4 separate regions of the Homo sapiens genome follow, and regions 2, 3 and 4 are each linked to region 1. The links come from fine-mapping of genetic effects on gene expression. A gene starts in region 1. Each other region holds a variant in brackets. All regions are shown on one strand. Distances are from middle to middle.

Region 1 (5,153 bases):
TCCTTTTAATGGCTGAATAGTATTCCATTGTATGTATATACCACATTTTCTTTATCCGCTCATCCACTGATGGACACTTAGGTTGATTCCATATCTCGGCTCTTATGAACAGTGCTGCAATAAACATGAGAGTGCAGATATCTCTGCAACATACTGATTTTACTTCCTTCAGATATATACCCAGGCGTGGGATTGTGGGATCATATGGCAGTTTTGTTTTTAATTTTTTGAGGAACCTCTATACTGTTTTCTATAATGGCTAGAGTAATTCAAATTCTTTTGTTTATTTATTATTTTTTTGAGACGGAGTCTCGCTGTGTCACCCAGGCTGGAGTGCAGTGGTGTGATCTCGGCTCACTGCAGCCTCTGCCTCCCAGGTTTAGCTGGGACTACAGGCATGTGCTGCCATGCCTGGCTAATTTTTTTGTATTTTTAGTAGATAAGGGGTTTCAGCATGTGGGCCAGGATGGTCTTGACCTCCTGACCTCGGGATCCGCCCACCTCAGCCTCCCAAAGTGCTGGGATTACAGGCGTGAGCCACTGCATCTGGCCAGTAATTTACATTCTTACCAACAGTGTATAAGTATTTCTCTCCACATATGCATGGGCATGTTATTTTTTGTCTTTTTGATAATAGCCATTCTAACAGGTATGAGGTGATATCTCATTGTGGTTTTGATTTGCATTTCCCCTATGATTATTTTTATTTATTTTTAATTTTTTAAAAATGTATGTATTTGTTTTTGAGAGTCTTGCTCTGTCACCCTGGCTGGAATGCAGTGGTGTGATCATGGCTCACTGCAGCCTCAAGCTCCTGGGCTCCAGTGATCCTCCCACCTCAGGCTCCTGAGTAGCTAGGACTATAGGTGTATGCCACATTGCCCAGCCAATTGTGATTTTTTGTAGAGACAGGGTTCTGCCATGTTGCCCATGGCTGGTCTTGAACTTCTGGGCTCAAGCAATCCACCTGCTTGGCCTCCCAAGGTGTGGGATTACAGGTGTGAGTCACTGTGCCTGGCTGAGCATTTTTTCATATATTTGTTAGTCATCATCATGTTTTCTTTTGAGAAATGTCCATTCAGGCCTTTTGCTCATTTTTAAATTGGATTTTTTTTTTTTTTTTTTTGGCTATTGAGTTGACTTCTTCATATACTCTGGATATTAACCCTTTGTCAGATATATAGTTTGCAAATATTTTCTCCCATTCTGCAGGCTGTCTTTTCACTCCGTTGATTATACATATTATGTATTTACTTATCTTTCATTGTCCACCTACCCCACTATATAGAGTTTAACTTGGATATTTTCCCAAAGTGTTAAAAAGAAAGATGGAAAATGGGAGCCAGAAATAGAAAGCCCACTGAGTACTACAGTTATCACTGAGAAAGAAGAATGAAAGTTATTACTGAAAAATAAAACTGAAGAAACCTCTCAGATGGGCCTGGTGCCTGGGTCCATGGGGACAAAAGTGGAACATCAGTCTAGCAGTCTAGTCTGGTGCTGGGGAAGACCTAAAGCCTGATTCTTCAGAGGCCATCATGGAGGCTGGGTTTGTGGGTGGTAGCCTGTAGGCTAGGCCCTCTGGGGTAGTTCTGGTGCCAGGGTCTACTGGGGTAGACCTGGACCTTGGGTTTGTTGGAGCAGGCCTGGAACCTGGGTTCACTGGAACCTGGGGCTGTAGGGACCAGCAGTCAGTGGACCTAAAGCCTATATCCACTGGTGCCAACCTGGAGACTGGGGCTGTAGGGCCCAACCTGGTGTTGGAGCCTGGTGCCTGAAACTATGGGGACCAACATGGGGAATGGAGTGGGCATAGATCTAGGCGCCATGGAGATTAGCCTAGCATTGGGGTGATCTTGGAGTCTCAGTGAAATGGCTCAGTGATCTTGGAGTCTCATTTTATAACAAACTAGAATTAAATACAGTACTTCTAATAATGACTTCTTCCAATTAGTCCAAACTGGGCTCCCACTTATTCCCTATCATACACATCTCCGTATCGTAAAACTATCCTCCCTGTTCGGCGCGTTGGCACATTCTGTTCCTCCGACTAGAATATTCCCTGTACTTATTCAAATCATACCTATGACCACTGCAGAACTCCAGGAACATGACCATCCCATCTAAACCCCTGCGTTCAGAGACTTGACCAAACTCTAGCAAGCTTTAGCAGCATAAGGCCCTGTGCCCAGGGCGACTGCCTCAGAAAGCTTAACTACGTGATGTAACCAGCACACAACTGATGATAGGTCTCTGACATCCCTTTCTTAGAACGTTTACTAAAGGGCTTGCAATTGTAAAGACTTATTTCTTGCCACTCAGAAGTTCTCTCTCAAGGACCAGAGAGTCATTCCTTTGAAATGTAATCGAGAAGGATAAAATCCTCCGTAGGAGGATAGAATCCTGCGGTAACTGTTAAAACGCGCGCACACACAAACACACAGCTGGCCTAATCACATTTACACTAACAACTCTGTAGGTTCACTTTCTCTACTGAGCGCCCGCATATCCCCTTTCTCCTTTTAAAACGTCCCTTTAAAAATGCCCAGATGATCTCTGCACGAATCGAAATAGAGCTCAGCTCTTTCCTGTCAGTAGTTAACTGAATGTTTTCACCGCTTTAACGTCCAGCTGCGCTTATCTTTGACATCGACTACCTAAGGTCTACCTTTAGTCCCACGACTCTGACAAAATGATCTCAATATTGGTGTAAAATCACCTCCCCTTTCAAGGGTCTTCCAAAGCACTTCCTGTCTGCGGCATACAAAATGTATTGGCACGGAATTTTAAGCTTACTGAGCTTTATAAACACGTCACATTCACACATTCAAGACACACACTGGATATTCGGATAAAAACAAACAAACAAAAAACTGGCTAAATACCCATTCCCCTCAATAACTTGGATAAGATACCTAAAAAAGGTCGACCTTCGGTACCTTTCTGTCTTCTCCCCTCTCGCTATTTGCCTACACTGGCTTCCTCACCTCCACTTTTTCTCACGTTTATCTGAGCGAAAACAAGCACGGTTCGGCAGCCTCCTTTCCCAGCCCTACCTTTGTGCTGCAAAAGCGAAAATTCAAAAGCCAAGTACAATAGGAGACCGCCCACCCTGGCTCCCTCGTGACACGAGGGAGCGCGAAGCGGAGGGCGCCTCGCGGCAGGAGCGGGATTTCCGGGGTCACGGGAACCGGCAGGGGAACGGGATAAAGTTCCCGGAGAAAGGAAAGGAGAGCGTGGGATAGTAAAAGAGAAGACGCGGAGAAGAGGAGAGGACCTACAAGAACGGAGGACAGGGGCGCACGATGGTCCCGGGGGGAGCGGAAACAAAGGCACGCAAAACGGAAAAGCGTGTGTAGGGGAGCGGAAAAGGAAGTCACCACCGTGGCCTGCGACGGTAAGTGGTCGTAAGGGTTGGTCTTAGCGCTTCAGTTTAGTGTTGTCAGTGGGAGAATCCTAAAATGTCGCCGTGGAATGGACTGTACCGCTCGCTTCTCCAAACGTGTCCCAGACGGCGAGCCTCCCCGGCTCCGCGGCTTGTCCCTTGCAAGCGCCGCGCAGGCCTGCCCCGCGCTGGACGTGGAGACGCGGTGCCGAGCGCCACGGGCCGGCTGTGCGCCGGCCGGGGAAAGAGGGCGAGGGGAAGAGATGAATCGGTCTTCCCAGAGCGCGCCGCGAGGTCGCGAGATTACACTTTAAAAAGCATGAGGAGGCTTGCTTTCTACATGCTGATTTAATTTCGGAATACATTCGAGGCCCTGTGCTAAGTTAGGTAATGTTCCCTATAATTGTCTTTTATGTATAAGTTGTCTTGCCTAACTAAAACTTTTCTTACTTGTATCGTGCAGCCAACTTTTCAAGAACGAAAGATGAGCAACTCCTTTCTGGTAGAGGTTCTTTCATTGGAGAATTTTTGAGCTACAATAATCCTTTTAACGCTGCGCACACATACAGGGATTACACGTGTAGGGGATTAAAAACACAGTTAAGTTTAGGTTGAAGGTGCTGTTAAGGACTTCAGGCAACATTAAATCAACACTCAGTTCTTTGCTCTGTTCCACATCTGGGCTCCTGTATAGCAGTTGTTGCTCTAGGTGCTAGAGGTATGCAGAGGAACTGGACAAGGGCAAGGAAAACAAAGGGCTCCTTCTTTAGAAGAGCTAGCATTCTCTTGGAACAGACAAGCTTGTGGTGAGAAGTATATTTGTGAAATCTACGAGGGGAGGGAGCAGCGCAGTAATAGAACGGGCGATCCTTTCTTGATTTTTTATTGGGTTCTGGCCTGAAAGGCGACTGTATAATCAGCTGGGATTCCTGCAATGATTAACATTCCAGGAAGGGAAGCCAGCCTGTGAAGAAGCATGGCATTGAAACAGGGTGAGTTGTGAGGATTATAAACAGGGTAGTTGGAGAGTTGATTTGTGGCCAGATTCTTAAGCCCCTGTTTAGTCTTAAGAATATTATCTTTAGGCACTGCAAATGCCCTCTTGCAGCTAAGACTAATGGGAAGAACTGGTTAAAAAACTAATTACAGCAAAGAGTGAGTGAGAGTGGTGATGAGAGATACAGATGTTCTGAGAGCAGACAATAAGGGGACTTTATGTAGTCCTATGTTAGAGGAGATGATTTGAAGTTACTCTGAGGAAGACAAAAATGTAACAGGTAGATCGCATATGCGAAAGCTTGAGATGGCGAAAAAATCAAAAGGATTTCAGGAACTGAAAGTTGTGCATTTTGGCTGTGTGAGGGAGAGAGTTGTGGGTGGCATGTAATGAACCTTGAAAGGTAGTTTATGTTATGACAGCCTACAACCGAATCAGAACTTTTACAAACAGGCGATATACAGACAGTCTGAAATCAAATGCTTCTGATTTCTATTACGTGCTCTAGGCTAATTGTTTTCTTTTTAAGTATGAGTTTGCGTTAGTCTTCTGGATTTAGTGATTACAGTATAAGGTGAAACAGGTAAAGGCTTTTAGAGAACATCTCACTTATTTCCTGTGCACTAAAGGGAAACAGATCACCTTTGCAGAACTTGAAAAAAATGGGAAGTGCGACCTTTGATCTCAGATGGACTTTCTTTCCTCTTTTCAGTGGCTTGGTAGTGAGCTTGTTCAGCTCCACTGAATCTTCTTTGTGGTGGGGCTGCAAGA
Region 2 (5,153 bases), 31 kb before region 1:
ATTCTTATATTAGGCCCTTTGTGGCTTCTTCTACCTATTTGGCCTAATTCCATGCTTGTACATTGGAGTGCTTCCCTCCATTCCAGCACCTTTGAATCTCTAGACTGTTTAACCTTACACCAACTTACAAAATCACTTCATAAATCTTAATTCTCATACTCACAATCTTCACTTCTTTTTCTTAGAATGCCTAATGTTACTTTATGTCACAAGACAAAAAGTGCTGATTGGACTAGAAGAATTTCTGCCATTTTTACCTCTATTCCAACAATCTTTCAATTCATTTCTTATTGACCCATGACCATATTCCTCCAAGAATGCTTAGAAAGGATTTTTCTCTCCTCTCCAGTCTCCCAGTCCCACTGTGGCCTCTTTCAGGCCCAGTGGAAGCTTTTCCATTTCATTTCTACGGTCATAACCAATAAACATAGGCTATTCATCATTGGGGCATCTTTATGAAGAAAATATGTCTACTGACACCTCTTCTTTGTTCTGCTGTACATAATGGTGATCAGGACTCAGGGTCATTAGTGAGTGAGGGGAAGAGGAGGACATGGGCTGGTTTGTTTGAAAAATTCCCCAGTGTAGCAGGCACTGTTGACACACTGTCCAGAACCATACCTTCCGTGCAAGCCAGCAGGTTTTCTGACAGCTAGTTACTGCATTTGCATCAGAGAGCTGCCCTCAGACTTGGCTGGAGAACATGGCAAGCCAGAAGTACCCACAAATTGATGGTCTCCAGGAACAGACCTGAACCAGTGACTCACTTGTATGGGGTCACAACACAGCTGTCATCATGCCCTCAATAGAATCAGCCTTTTACACATGTGTTCCATGGCGTTCCAGAGCTTCACCATGGGATTAGGCTCCATTTGCCCATTGCAGTAGCTTGTTTTGTGACACTGCCTTTGCTACAGGAAAGCCTTCCTGATCCAGACCCCAAGAGAGGGTTCTTGGATATCACGCAAGAAAGAATTCAAGGTGAGTCCATAAAGTAAAGTGAAAACAAGTTTATTAAGAAAGTAAAGGAGGTCGGGCACTGTGGCTCAGGCCTGTAATCCCAGCACTTTGGGAGGCCGAGTTAGGCAGATCACCTGAGATCAGGAGTTCGAGACCAGCCTGGCCAACATGGTGAAACCCTGTCTCTACTAAAAATACAAAAATTAGCCCAAGGGCATCTTAAATTTAAAAAGGCAATCAGCCAGGAATTAAAGAAGGCTAACAGCTGGGTGTGATGAAGGAAAGAGTCAAAGAGAGCACTGCTAAAGCTGCTCTCATCTCAGCTGAATGTTCCCATGCCCAAGGTTGTGCCCTCTAAGGAGCAACATCAAAGGCTTCCCAGTAAAATAGTGCCATCAGAAGCTAAATGAAAAAACAGGCAAATAATAACAAGCACCATGAAATGAGGGACAATTATATCCACAATTGCTACAATATATTATTTAAGTGTCTAGTTTTCAGAAAGAAAAAAAAGAGACATGAAAAGCAACAAAAATGTGTGACACACACACACAGGGCCGGGCCTGGTGGCTCACGCCTGTAATCCCAGGACTTTGGGAGGCTGAGGCAGTCGGATCATGAGGTCAGGAGATCGAGACCATCCTGGCTAACACGGCGAAACCCTGTCTCTACTAAAAATACAAAAAAAAATTAGTCAGGCATGGTGGCGAGTGCCTGTAGTCCCAGTTACTTGGGCTGAGGCAGGAGAATGGCATGAACCTAGGAGGCAGAGCTTGCAGTGAGCCGAGATTGTGCCACTGCACTCCAGCCTGTGCGACAGAGCAAGACTCCATTTCAAAAAAAAAAAAAAAGAAAAGAAATGTATGATGGTAATATCTCATTAAAGAGAGAATATATTAAAAATAAATTATCTAAAAAAAAAAAAAAAAAAAAAAGGACCAGGCCAGACACAGTGGCTCATGCCTGTAATCTCAGCACTTTCAGAGGCCCAGGTGGGCAGATCACCTGAGGTCAAGAGTTCGAGACCAGCCAGACCAACACAGAGTAACTCAGTCTCTACTAAAAATATAAAATTAGCCCGGCATGGTGGCGCATGCCTGTAATCCCAGCTGCTTGGGAGGCTGGGGCAGAAGAATTGCTTGAACCTGGGAGGCGGAGTTTGCAGTGAGCCGAGATCACACCATTGTACTCCAGCCTGGGCAACAAGAGCAAAACTCCATCTCAAGAAAAAAAAAAAAAAGACCAAATAGAAATCCTGAAGTTGAAAGGTTGAAAGTACTGACTGGAATCAAAATTTAAAAATTACTATAGGGCTCAACTACAGATTTGAACTGGCAGAAGAAGAAATGAGCAAACCTGAAGCATGAAGACAGGCTAATAGAGAATAATACC[CA/A]AAAAGCAGAAAGAAAAAAAGAATAAAGAAAAATAAAAAGAGTCCCAGAGGAATGTGTGACACTAAGAAACTCACCAACATACATATAATAGGATTACCAGAAGAGTAGAAAAAAACTATTCAAAGAAATAATAACTAAAAATTTCCCAAATTTGAGGAAAAACAATATATATATATCCAAGAGGGTTAACAAGCTCCAAGTAGGAAAAGCAGAGCGCTATACATAGAAACATCATAGTTAAAGGGTTGAAAGTCAAAGACAAAAAGAACTTATTTTTATTTATTTATTTATTTATTTATTTTTTGAGATGGAGTCTTGTGCTGTCGCCTGGGCTGGAGTGCAATGGCGCAATCTCGGCTCACTCCAACCTCCACCTCCCGGGTTCAAGGGATTCTCCTGCCTCAGCCTCCCAAGTAGCTGGGATTACAGGTGCCCACCACCACGCCCAGCTAATTTTTTGTATTTTTAGTAGAGACGGGGTTTCACTATGTTGGACAGGCTGGTCTTGAACTCCTGACCTTGTGATCCACCCACCTCATCCTCCCAAAGTGCTGGGATTACAGGCGTGAGCCACTGCGCCTGGCCCAAAAAGAACATCTTAAAAGCGGCACAACGAAGATGAAACAAGGACAATCCCAGACAAACAAAAACTGACAGAATTGTTAGTGATCCTATCTTATAAGAAATACTAATGTAACTGCCCAAAGGGTTCCTCCTGCCTCCTGCACAAAGACAGACCATGGCATTGCAGTAAAGAAAGAGTTTAATTAGACATCAGGCCAGCCACACCACACAGAAGATGGAGTTAGTACTGCAATAATTCTCCCTAAAGCTTCTAAATTAGGGGTTTTGCATAGGCAGTTTGGGTGAAGGGGTGGAGGTCGCTAGGCTTGGTGCTGATTGGTTGGGGTGGAGATGAAATCAAAGGGGGTCAAAGCTGTCCTCTTGTACTGAATAAATTCTGGGTGGGGCCACAGGAGCAGGGTTGGAGGGTCCAGGTAGTGTTAGACGTGAAAAAAAAACTGAAAAGATATCTCAAAAGGCCAATCGGCAATAGTAGTATTATCTGCAGGAATAGTTGGCAATCTATGTCTACACCTTAGCAGAATCAGTCTCCTCTCTGCCCCCTAGCCTGATGGCCTTCCATTAACTTTATAAAAGCAGATGATTTTGGGGGAAGGTCTGTTATTTAAACAATCTTCTGGCCAGGCACGATGGCTCACAGCTGTAATCCTAGCACTTTGGGAGGCCGAGGCGGGTGGATCATGAGGTCAGGAGTTCAAGACCACCCTGGCCAAGATGGTGAAACCCCGTCTCTACTGAAAATACAAAAATTAACTGGGCATGGTCTCAAAAACAAAACAACACAAACAAACAACCTTCCAAAGTTAGTTCAGACTAAGTTAGCTCAGACGAAGCCCAGGAATGATTGAGGCAGCTTGAAAGCAAAGGCAAGAGGACGGGTGGGCTAGATCAGGTCTTTTTCACTGTCTAATTTTGCCGCTGATATAATTTTTGCAAAGGGGGTTCACTAAGGGAACTTCCTCAGGATGAAAGCAAGTGGCCTCAAACCATATTTTATAAGAAGCAAAATAGAGGCCAGGCACAGTAGCTCATGCCTGTAATCTCAGCACTTGGGAGACTGAGGCGGGCAGATCACGAGGTCGGTAGTTCGAGACCAGCCTGGCCAATATGGTGAAACCCTGTCTCTACTAAAAATACAAAATTTAGCCGGGCATGACGGCATGTGCCGGTAGTCCCAGCTACTTGGGAGGCTGAGGCAGCATAATCGCTTGAACCCGGGAGGCAAAGGTTGCAGTGAGCCAAGATCATGCCACTGACTTCAGCCTGGGTGACAGAGCAAGACTCCATCTAAAAAAAAAAAAAAAAAAAAAAGGAAAAAAAAAGGAAGCAAAATAGAGAAAAAGAGCATGGTTAAAGGTAATTATGTAGTAGTAAAGATAGTATAAATGCATATTAATTCTTCTCTTAATTGATCTACAAAACAAATGAATAAAACAGTATGCTTATAATTTCATTGTTAGGCCTATAACACATATAAACTAATAATATTACAAAGAATATGGGTGTGAGCAAAGCAGTATTGGAGTAAGGATGTGATACCAGATGATAACCCAAATCTACAAGATAAACAAAGAGAAGAAATGCTAAATAAGATGGTTAATACGACAAAAACTATAAGCATTTGCTCTCTTCTGCTCTCTGATTCTTTAAAAGACATACAATTATATAAATTAATACTTATAACAATGTATTGCTGCATTTGTAACATGCTTAAATGCAATATATGTAATGATAACTGCAGCAAAAGGCAGAAAAAGAAAAACTATGCAGGGGTAAATTTCCATATCTTACTGGACTTGTCAGTAAAACTCTGTAGTAGGTTCTGATAAGTTAAGATGCATGTGACAAGTCTTAGAGCAACCACGAAAAAACAAAAAACTTAAAAAAATTGTTAAAGAAATAAAAAGTATAACACTAGACAATATTTATTAATACAAAAGCAAACAACAAAGGAACTAAAAGACATGAGACATAGAAAACAAAAAGTGGAAGAATTAAATCTGTTTTACCAATAATAACACTAAATGTAAGTAAATTAAATAACTCAATAAGGCTGGGCATGGTGGCTGATGCCTGTAATCCCAGCACTTTGGGAGGCCAAGGTGGGTGGATCACAAAGCCAGGAGACAGAGACCATCCTGGCCAACATGGTGAAACCCCATCTCTACTAAAAATACAAAAATTAGCCAGGTGTGGTGGCATGTGCCTGTAGTT
Region 3 (5,153 bases), 25 kb before region 1:
AAATATCAAAATCTATGAAGAGCAGGTAAAGCAGTGTTTGGAGGCAAATTTATGCCTATAAACATCTATATTTGAAAATTAAGAAAGATTTGAAATTCATAATCACCTTCAGATATTAAAAAGTAAATTTAAAGCAAGCAGAAGAAAAAAAGATTGAATCAGAAATTAATTAAATAGACAATTAATGAAAATTAATGAAACCCAAATGTAGCTTTTTGAAAAGATCAACAAAATTGACAAAACTTTATCTAAACTGACCAAAAGAAAAAGAGAGAAAACTCAAGTTATCAAAATTCAGAATTGTCTTAGTTTGTTTGGGTTGCTCTAAAAAACTACCATAGACTGCATATCTTAAAAACAACAGAAATGTATTCCTCACAGTTTTGGAGACAAGGAAACCTAATATCAAGACAGGCAGATTTAGTGTTTGGTGAGGACCTATTTTCTGGTTCATGGATAGTACTTTCTTGCTGTGCCCTTATATGCTGAAAATGGGAAACCAGCTCTCTGGAACCTTTCTTATAAGTGCACTAAACCCATCCTGACCTCATGATCTAATCATCTCCCTAAGGCCTTACATCCTAACACTATTACGTTAGTGATCAGGTTTTCAACATACAAATTTTGGAAAGACACAAGCATTCAGACCACAGCAGGAATAAAAGAGATAATATTGCTAGCAACATTACAGAACTAAAAAGGATTATAAGGAAATACTACTGCAATTGACTTGATGTTTATGTTCCCCATGATTTATATGCTGAAATCCTAACCCCCAAAGTCATGGCATATACATTATTCTCAACTTTACATGGAACATTCTCCAGGGTAGGTCATATGTTAGGCCACAAAACATGTCTTAACAAATTTAGGAAGCTATAGATCATACAGAGTATCTTTTCTAGTAAAAATAGTATACAACTAGAAATCAATAATAGGAAGAACTGTGGAAACTTTACAAATACATGGATATCAAACAATGTGTCTCTGAATAACCAATGAGTCAATGAAGAAATTAAAAGTGAAATTAAAAAATTTTATGAGACAAACAAAAATAGAAACAACACACATACCAAAATCTATGGGGTACAGCGAAAGCAGTTCTAAGATAGAACTTTACAGCAATAAACACCTACATCAAAAATGAAGAATGATCTCAAATAAATGACCTAACATTGCACAGATGGAACAAGAAAAGCTAAAACCTAAAAAAGCAGAAGAAAAAGATAATAATAAAGATTGGAGCAGAAATAAATAGAGACTAAAGAAACAAACTTCAACATCCTTCAAGATAAACATAACCTCTCAACAAATTATGTGTATAGAAGTTTCATAGCTCAATGCAATAAAGGCCATATATGAAAAACCCATAGCTAACATCCTACTGAATAGAGAAAAGATAAAAGCTTTTTCTCTAAGATCTGGAGAAAGACAAGAATGCACACTTTCATCACTTCTATTCAACATAATATTGGAAGTCATAGCCATAGACATTACACAAAAGAAAAAAGTCTTCCAAATTGGAAGGGAGGAAGTCAAATTGTCTGTTTGCAGACAATATGATCTTATGTAGAGATAAACCAAAAGACTCTACCAAAAACTGTTAGAACTAATAAGAGAATTCACTAAAGTTGCAGGGTACAAAGTAAATATGCAAAAATCAATAGCATTTTTATACCTTAATAGTGAACAATCTGAAAAAGAAATAAAACAACTCCATTTATAATAGCTACAAAAATCTATAAGATACCTAGGAATAAAGTTAACCAGAGAGGTAAAAACTATAGAATACTGATGAAAGAAATTGAAGAGAACACAAATAAATAGAAAGATAGCCATGTTCATAGATTGGAAGAATTCATATTGTTAAAATGTCCATATTATACCAAAGTATGTAGAGATTCGCTGTAATCTCTGTGAAATTTCCAATGATATCCTTCACAGAAATAGAAAAGAAATCCTGAAATTCATATAGAATGACAAAAAACTCTGAATAACCAAACTAATCTTGAGCAAAAAAAGCCCCACAACAACAAAGCTGGAGGCATGATACTGCCTAACTTCAAAATATATTACAAGCCTATGGTAACCAAAACAGCATGTATTGGCAGAAAAACAGGCATTAAAAAAACAGTGGAACAGAATACAGAGCCCAGAAATAAATCCACACATCTACAGCCCACTGATTTTGGACAAAGGTGCCAAGAACACACACTGGGAAAAGGACAATCTCTTTAATAAATGGTGCTGAGGAAACTGGATATCCATATGCAGAAGAATACTGTACCCCTATCTTTCACCATACAAAAATCAACTCAAAATGAATTAAAAACTTAAATATAAGACCCAAGACTATGAAACTAC[A/G]GAAGAAAACATAGAGAAAATGCTTCATGACATTGGACTAGGCAAGGATTTTTTTGATAAGACCTCAAAACACAGGCAACAAAACCAAACATAGACAAATGAGATACGCCAAACTAAAAAGCTTCTGCACAGCAAAGAAAACAATCAGCAGAGTGAAGAGGCAACCTACAGGATGGGAGAAAATATTTGATACTATACATTGACAAGGCATTACTATTCAGAATATATAATGACCTTAAATCAACAAGCAAAAAATAAACCTCATTCAAAAAATGGCCGAAAGACCTTAACAGGCATTTTCCAAAAGAAGACATACAAATGGCCAACAGACATATTAAAAAATGCTACCTATCACTTATCATCCGGGATAATGACCCTGGTCACTAATGACCATAGAAATGCAAATAAAAACAATGAGACATCCCCTCACTCCAGTTAGAATGGCTGTTATAAAAAAGACAACAGATAACAAGTGTTAGAAATTACGTGGAGAAAAGAGAACCCTTAATACACTGTTGGTGGGAATGTAAATTAGTATAGCCATTATGGGAAACAGTATGGAGCTTCCTGAAAAATTAAAAATAGAACTATCATATGATCCAACAATCCCACTATTGGCTATATATCTGAAGGAAATGAAATCAGTATGTCGAAGAGACATCTGAACTCTCATGTTTATTGCATTAATTGGCTATTCACAATAGCCAAGATATGGAATCAGTCTAAGTGTCCAACAATGGGTGAATGGATAAAGAAAATGTGGTATAATGTAATGGAATACTATTCAGCCATAAAAAGGAAGGAAATCTTGTCATTTGTTACAACATGGATAAACTTGGAGACATTATGTTCAGTGAAATAAGCCAGGCACAGAAAGACAAATACCACATGTTCTTACTCATATGCATAATCTAAATATGTTAATCTCATAGAAGTAGTGAACAGAACAATGGTCACCAGAAACTGGGGAGAGTAGAGGTAAGGGGGAAAGGGGAGAGGATGGTCAACAAGTACTAAGTTACAATTAGAAAGGAGGAAAAAGTTCCAGTGTCCTATAGCACAGTAGGGTGACTATAATCAACAAAAAAGTATTGTATATCTCAAAAGAGCAAGAAGAGAGGATTTTGCATGTTCCTACCAAAAATAAATGATAAATATTTGAGGTGATGAGTATGCTAATTACCTTTATTTGATCACTGTACAATGTATACAGGTATCAAAACATCACATTTTACCACATAAATAGGTACTATCATTATGTGTCTATTAAAAATAAAAAATTTTTTAAAGTGGTTCTGGGATGGTGAGATATCTACATGCAAAAGAGTGAATGTAGGCCCCTACATCATACCACATACAAACATGTACTCAAAATGAATCGAAGTCCTAAATGTAAGAGCTAAAGGTATAAAACTGTTAGAAGAAAATATAACAATAAATCTTCATGACCTTGTAGTAGGTAACAGTTTCTTAGATGTGACACTAAAAGCTCAAGCAACAAAAGAAAAACAGATAAATTGGACTTAATCATAATGTAAAATATTTGTGTTCCAAAAGACACCAGCAAGAAAGTAAAAAGACAACCATGTAATGTGAAAAAAATATTTACCAGTCATATATCTGAGAAGAGATTCGTATCTAGAATATAAAAAGAACCTTCACAAGTCAATAATTAAAATATAAATTACATAATTTAAAAGATAGGCAAAAGATGTAAGTAAACATGTCTCCAAATAAGATATACGAATGGCCAATAAATACATTAAAAGATGCCAAAATCAATTAACTATAAAGAAAACACAAATGAAAACCACAATGAGATACCTCTTCGCACTCCCTAACATGGCTATAGTACAAAAGACTGAAATATCAAGTGTTGGAGAAGTTGTGGACAAATTGAAACACTGTTGGTGGAAATGTAAAATGGTACAGCCACTTTGCAAAACTGTTTGGTAGTCCCTCAAAAGGTTAAATATAGAGTTACCATATGACTCAGCAATTCCACTCTTAGGTTTGTACCCAAAAGATATGAAAGCTTATGTCCACACAAAAACTTATCCACAAATGCTGATAGGAGCACTTTATTTGTAACAGCTAAAAAGTGGAACAGTGCAAATACCTATCAGTTGATAAATGGATAAATAAAATATGATTTAGCCACAAATGGGATATTATTTGCCAATTAGAAGGAATGAAGTACTGATACATGCTATGGCTTAAATGAACCTTAAAAATGAGCTAGGAGGCAGGACTCAACACAGGGCTCAGACATTGGACCAAATTGAGTACTAGCTAAAACAGGTCTGGGGCAGAAGCACCTCCCCATAAGACATGCCCACTAATGTGCCATGTCAGTTTACCATTGCCATGGCAACAAGTTAACATTCCTTTCCATAGCAATGACCTGACAACCCAGAAGTTACCTCTCTCATGGTATAAATTTCTGCATAAACCACCCCTTAATTTTAATATAATTAACAGTGGGTATAAATATGACTGCAAAACTGCCTCTGAGCTGTTATTCTGGGAGTATGGAGTAGCCCTGCTCTGCAAGGAGCAGTACTTCTGCTGCTGCTGTATGCTGCCACTTTAATAAAAGTTGCTGTTTAATACCACTGACTCACCCTTGAATTATTTCCTGGGCTAAGCCAAGAACCCTCCCGGGCTAAGACTGAATTTTGGGGCTTGCCTGTCTTGCATCATCTGGTGACCAGCGAAGGGAGGAAGACAGTGGAGACGGCAGTGATTGGTGGAAATGGCAGTGATCGATTGGTGGAGACAGTGAGACC
Region 4 (5,153 bases), 27 kb after region 1:
AAACTAATTAGAAAGTGCTAGAGCCCAGATTCAAATGTAGGCAGATTGGCTTTAGAAACTGTGCTCCTAACCGTTTACTTCATACTGCTTCTAATAGACATTTTTAGCGTGCCTTTTGTCTTTTGAATGAAAATTATAATAGTACACAGGCTAATAATTTGCTTCACCTTTATTTCTACCAATTCTAGATACTTCATTGGAATTTTATGTAATCTAAATGTAGCAAGAGCAAATATGCATATTAAAATTACTTGATATAGGTAATAGAACAGATTTTATTGGAAAGGTTTTTAGCAGAGAATAAACCAGTTTACTTTGAAAGCTTTTTAGCTCCTCGTGCCTGTGTTAATTTTCTCATCACTTCGTGAGATACACTGATCTTCCTGATAACAGCTTTGGATTAGGAAATTCCTTCCACATTGGCTTTTACTTTTTCTTGACTGCATTTGTTTTATAAATCAACATAGTTCTCCATCTAAAATTCATCTAATTTTTTTAAGTTCAACAAACACTATGTGCAAAACATTTTACTAGCGTCTGAGGAGGGGGAAGGCATACTGTCACCATCAAGGGACTTACTGTCTAGACCTAGCAAATGCCACCTTCCCTTCTCCTCTCTAAAGCCTGTCTAACTACCCCCATCCCAATTGAAATGAATAATTTCTTCTTTGACACTCTTCTGAGTTTGTTCAAGCACTTTGTATAATACCTGTACTTTGATAGTTGTATTTCTGTATCTCTGGCAAAATTATTGAGAACTTCTTAGGTTCTCTAGTCCCCATCTTGTAGAGATGATGTGTCTGATAATGCATCTAAACACATATTCATACAACACAATTTATAAGTACTATAATTAAGGCATAAAAATAAAAATACTGTTGAAACACAAAAGAGAAAATTGTTATTGTGAGATTTAGAAAATCTTGATGGAAAAATATTATATGATCTGGGCATTCCTTGAAATAGGTAGAGAGAAGGACAGCCTATTACAACTAGTAGGAATGATAAAAGCAAAGACACAGGAGCCACAATAAGTGTAAGGTGTTAGAGGGATGGCAAATAGTTTGTGTGGTGAAATTAGGATGCTTGGAGGAGGGGTATGGTAATCAATAAAGTTGATAAGATAGTTTGGGATCAAGTGGCCTTGCCAAGAAATTTAGGTTTTATTCTATAAGACATCATCATCCTACAGGAAGGTTTATCAGGTAGCAGGATGGAAGATTATATTTAAGAGGAAAAAGAAATTAAATACAGAAATCAGTTAGGAAGCAAAGCTGTTGTCTCCAGCCATACCACCCTGAATGCACCCAATCTTGCCGATCTCAGAAGTTAATCAGTGTTGGGTCTGATTAGTCCTTGGGTGGGAGAAAGCAAAGCCATCTTACTGTACTAATCAAGGCTTGAGTAACACAGGTATGAACTAATGCAGCAGCAGCAAAAATATAAAAGAAGGGATTGATATTTGAAATATTTCTAAGGTAGATCCGAGGGGAAGTACTTGGTAACTAACTGAGTGTGGGAGAATTGTGAAACGGGAAAGTCAAACATAGTACCAAAAATCTGAGCCTTATTGACCGCTAGCTCAGAACTCTTACACTAACTTTTTCCACTAACACAGAACACTTATGCAATCTTTTATAGAGTTTCTAGGTATATTTTCATCTTTCTAAACATCCTTTAAGTCAAATAGTGCAATTTTTTTTAATTTCTCATTTCTTATGAATGAGGAAACTGAATTACGTAGTCATGACTTGCTCAATTTCATGTTGTTATTAAGTGGCAGCACTAGGATTCAAAGTCAGTTCTTTTACTTTCAGTTGGTTTTGCCGTGCTGAGTTTGAGGTGCTATCAGAATGTGAAAATGTCTAGTAGATTTTAGCACTTTATATGGAAGTAGATGAGACTTCCAAAAAAAAGAAATTATAAATAAAGAACAGAGAAAATCATGGATTAGAATTTTGAAACTGCATGGATTTAGGGGATTAGCTGGATAAGAAGAGCCAAGGAAGAAGACTGGAAAAGAACAAACAAAGAAATAAGAGAACCAGG[T/A]GTGTAAATGTTGCTAGAAAGTGAGAGCAAATATGAGAATGAAGAAACTGATTAAAGAAAGATACTACGTGTTATGGAGAGAGAAAAGGTGAATAAGGAAAAGTCATTTAATTTGACAAGTAGGAGATTATTAAAAGCTTTTGAGGAGAGATTTTGGGATAAGGCAGAGGGCCAGATTACACTGGATTGAAGAAAGTATGTGAGCTAAAAAAAAGACAAGGCAATGAGTTTGGACTACTCTTAGGAAATTTGTTTGTGAAAATTATAAGTTGTGGCAATACCAAGATAAAGCCTTAGAAATATTTTTTTAAAAATCAAAGCTTAACATAACTTTTCCCTTCTTTCCCTTCTTCTCTTATATGTTTATCATCTTAAGGATAACAGATGGGTATATCTTATGCCTTTCCCCTGTCATTACCCTGAGTAGAACTCCATAGTGATCTAGGGTATGTGATCTGTCTCTTATCCCTACATCTTTGCTAATACCTCATGCAAAGCTGAGCTCAAGGAGCCCTAGGATATCAACAGTCAAATACAGCATTATTTGCATTTCAGACAACATCAAAGAGTTTTAAATGGAAATGTCATTGTTTAAAAAAGACATATTTTTGGCTTCATTACTTTCTAAAACCTTAATTTAAAAAATTTAATGTAATATATTTGCATTATACCTTTGTGTTTCTGCTTATTTTTATTTAAAGGATGGAATGGCCGTATGCATGTTCATGCAAAACACCTTAACAAGATTTATGAGGTAATGCAGCCTTCTTTTTAAAATATGATTTCTAAAAGACCAAAAATAGCTTTTTGCTATTCCATTATTTGTACTAGTTAAGAAATAATAGCTAATTTTCAAATTACATCTATTCTAATGATGTACTATTTTTTTGTGCCGTAGAGGATAATCATTTAATTACATGTTAATGAAGTATATACATATGTATTTTAAAAATAAGAGAAATGAAAGATAAGAAAAATTTAAGACATATCCCCTAAAGAGCTTATATAACTAGCTGTATTTAGGAATAGATACTGGGAAAGTTAAATACTGGTATTAGAGCAGAATAATAAAGACACTGATCAAGACATGACACATAAAGTTTACCTAATATTCCAAATTAGTAGAATGTGTGGTGAAGTGGTCTGTATCCAGAGGAGATGAGAAAAAGAACTATGGATTGGAAAGTTTTTACAGCTTTCTGAGGAATATGAATTGACTTTGCACCTAGGTAAAGAAGCAAAGAGGAAAAATTCTTCTTGGCCTATCAAGGTATGTTTGAGGTTACAAACTGACATGTTTTGGTTGATTAGCTTTCTACTTTCACATTCCGAATGTAGACAAATTTAAAATTATGAAAAGTAAGGAAATTCTTATTTAAGCAAGGTTATTAATTGGACATTACTGTATTTTTGGTACCTATTGTATCTGAGAGTCTAGAGAGAGTAATAGAATCATAACATTACTATTCTAAAATAGTATCTTCATTGTTTAAACCCTATTCACCTCCTTTTCCTATTGCATTTGACTTTTTCATAGATAAATCTGAAGTTATTATTTTTTTAAATAATCCTTTCTACATGGGAGCAGTGTATATTAGGAAATTTTCAATTACTTTAGACCTGCACCTTTGCATTGTAGGTCAGAACCTACAAAAATTCCATCTTGGAAAACATTTTAGATTTACCTTGTATTCACACACCCCTGCAAAGTGGGTCTTTGCAAACAGGAAAGGTAAAAGATTTATTTTTACTGCAAAATCATGCCTTTATATAGGATTAGTCTGTGGATTATTTCAGGCAACAATGAGTAGATTTTTGAAGGAAACTTCATAACACAGTTTTGGAGCCCTATCTTCTGTAACACATTTCCAACCTTTGGAAATAGCCTTGATTTTCCAACTTTTAACCTGATACCAACAAAAATGGACAAAGATAATATCACATGGAATTATTCTGAAGAGCCAGCTGCTGAGAAGTTCCAGGAGCTGTAAATTAGACAAAAGCATCCATTTATTTGGGAGTAAGTTACAATATGGCTATAGCTTAAAAATATATAATGATTCAGGGAGGTATTTTAATGAACTTATGTGGCATTTATTGTGAACTATTGTATGTTTAGTATTACACTGTTTTTCTTCTCATGATGTAAAGGTTCAAGCTTCTGCTATCCTTTGATGTGTGTTTGTTTTTATGAAGACAGTGCAATAATTTTGTTTCCACTGCATTTTAAGATTTTTTAAAAAATAACATTTGTAAATGAATATTGAAATTAAAAATAGTAACATCAGTTTTTTCTTCAATATACAGACTTCCTTTAATAAGTGTTGCGCTGGTTCAAGGTTGGGCATTGGGTGGAGGAGCAGAATTTACTACAGCATGTGATTTCAGGTAGGATGAAAATTTCATTAATTTCTTGCACAAATATAATTAACTTGCTCAAATTCATTTTTGCCTTAATATCAATATTTTATATATTCTTAAATAGGATAAACCTATTTTCTTTTCTGAATGTTTTCTTTTTGTCAGTCATTAAAGTAGATAATTTTAATCTAATAAAATTTCATGATCACTTCATTACTATGCATTTTCAAAAAATTAACAAAACACATGGTTTTGAGATTTTGAATAGAGCAAATCCATATTAGCAAAACTCCTGGAAGGAAAGCTAAGGAAATATATGAAACTTAAAAATCCAAAAGAATTATACAAACAAAGGTAAGCAACATTAAAAAAGAAAAATAGAATGCAGAAAGAGAGACTGCTGTAGCTGTCTTCTCACCAATAAAAAGAGATTTTCTGAGATCCCTTTGTCTTCTTTTTGCTGTGATTTATAGCAACTTTGTGGGACTTTCAGGAAGATTAGGGACTAAAAATAGAGAAAGTTCTTTGGGACCAATAGCTCTTCACTCCCAATAATTATTCTCAGTATTTGATAGCTATATTATATAGAAATGACATTTTATAAAATCTAATGCTTTAGACATGGTTTAAACTGCTTTCTCAGTACCATTCCCAAGGCCTACTAACACAGCTAGCTATAAGGAGACCAATACAATGCTCTGTGAGTTATCTGTACAGGTTCACATACTGGAGCCTCTTTATAA

The links. PIP is the estimated chance that this variant, and not a neighbour inherited with it, causes the effect. A credible set is the group of variants that fine-mapping cannot tell apart.
Region 2: its variant is the best candidate, but not a certain one, in a credible set for the expression of ECHDC1 in whole blood (INTERVAL, PIP 0.50).
Region 3: its variant is the best candidate, but not a certain one, in a credible set for the expression of ECHDC1 in whole blood (INTERVAL, PIP 0.50).
Region 4: its variant is the best candidate, but not a certain one, in a credible set for the expression of ECHDC1 in whole blood (INTERVAL, PIP 0.55).

The regions. Positions count from the first base shown.
Region 1 is chr6:127,341,580-127,346,732 of GRCh38, reverse strand. It overlaps ECHDC1 (ethylmalonyl-CoA decarboxylase 1), which reads left to right and starts at 3,124. Exons shown (of 6, transcript NM_001002030.2): 1 at 3,124-3,397. It overlaps LOC105377994 (a long non-coding RNA gene), which reads right to left. Exons shown (of 4, transcript XR_001744334.2): 4 at 5,074-5,153. RefSeq lists enhancers at 1,218-2,091, 2,966-3,839.
Region 2 is chr6:127,372,492-127,377,644 of GRCh38, reverse strand. No RefSeq gene overlaps it. Among named protein-coding and RNA genes, the nearest start is that of ECHDC1, 31 kb to the right of the region's middle. The variant CA/A (reference allele first, on the strand shown) is at 2,353.
Region 3 is chr6:127,366,407-127,371,559 of GRCh38, reverse strand. No RefSeq gene overlaps it. Among named protein-coding and RNA genes, the nearest start is that of ECHDC1, 25 kb to the right of the region's middle. The variant A/G (reference allele first, on the strand shown) is at 2,365.
Region 4 is chr6:127,314,100-127,319,252 of GRCh38, reverse strand. It overlaps ECHDC1 (ethylmalonyl-CoA decarboxylase 1), which reads left to right. Exons shown (of 6, transcript NM_001002030.2): 4 at 2,751-2,803; 5 at 4,357-4,437. It overlaps LOC105377994 (a long non-coding RNA gene), which reads right to left and starts at 2,268. Exons shown (of 4, transcript XR_001744334.2): 1 at 1-2,268. It also overlaps the pseudogene RNA5SP217. The variant T/A (reference allele first, on the strand shown) is at 2,050.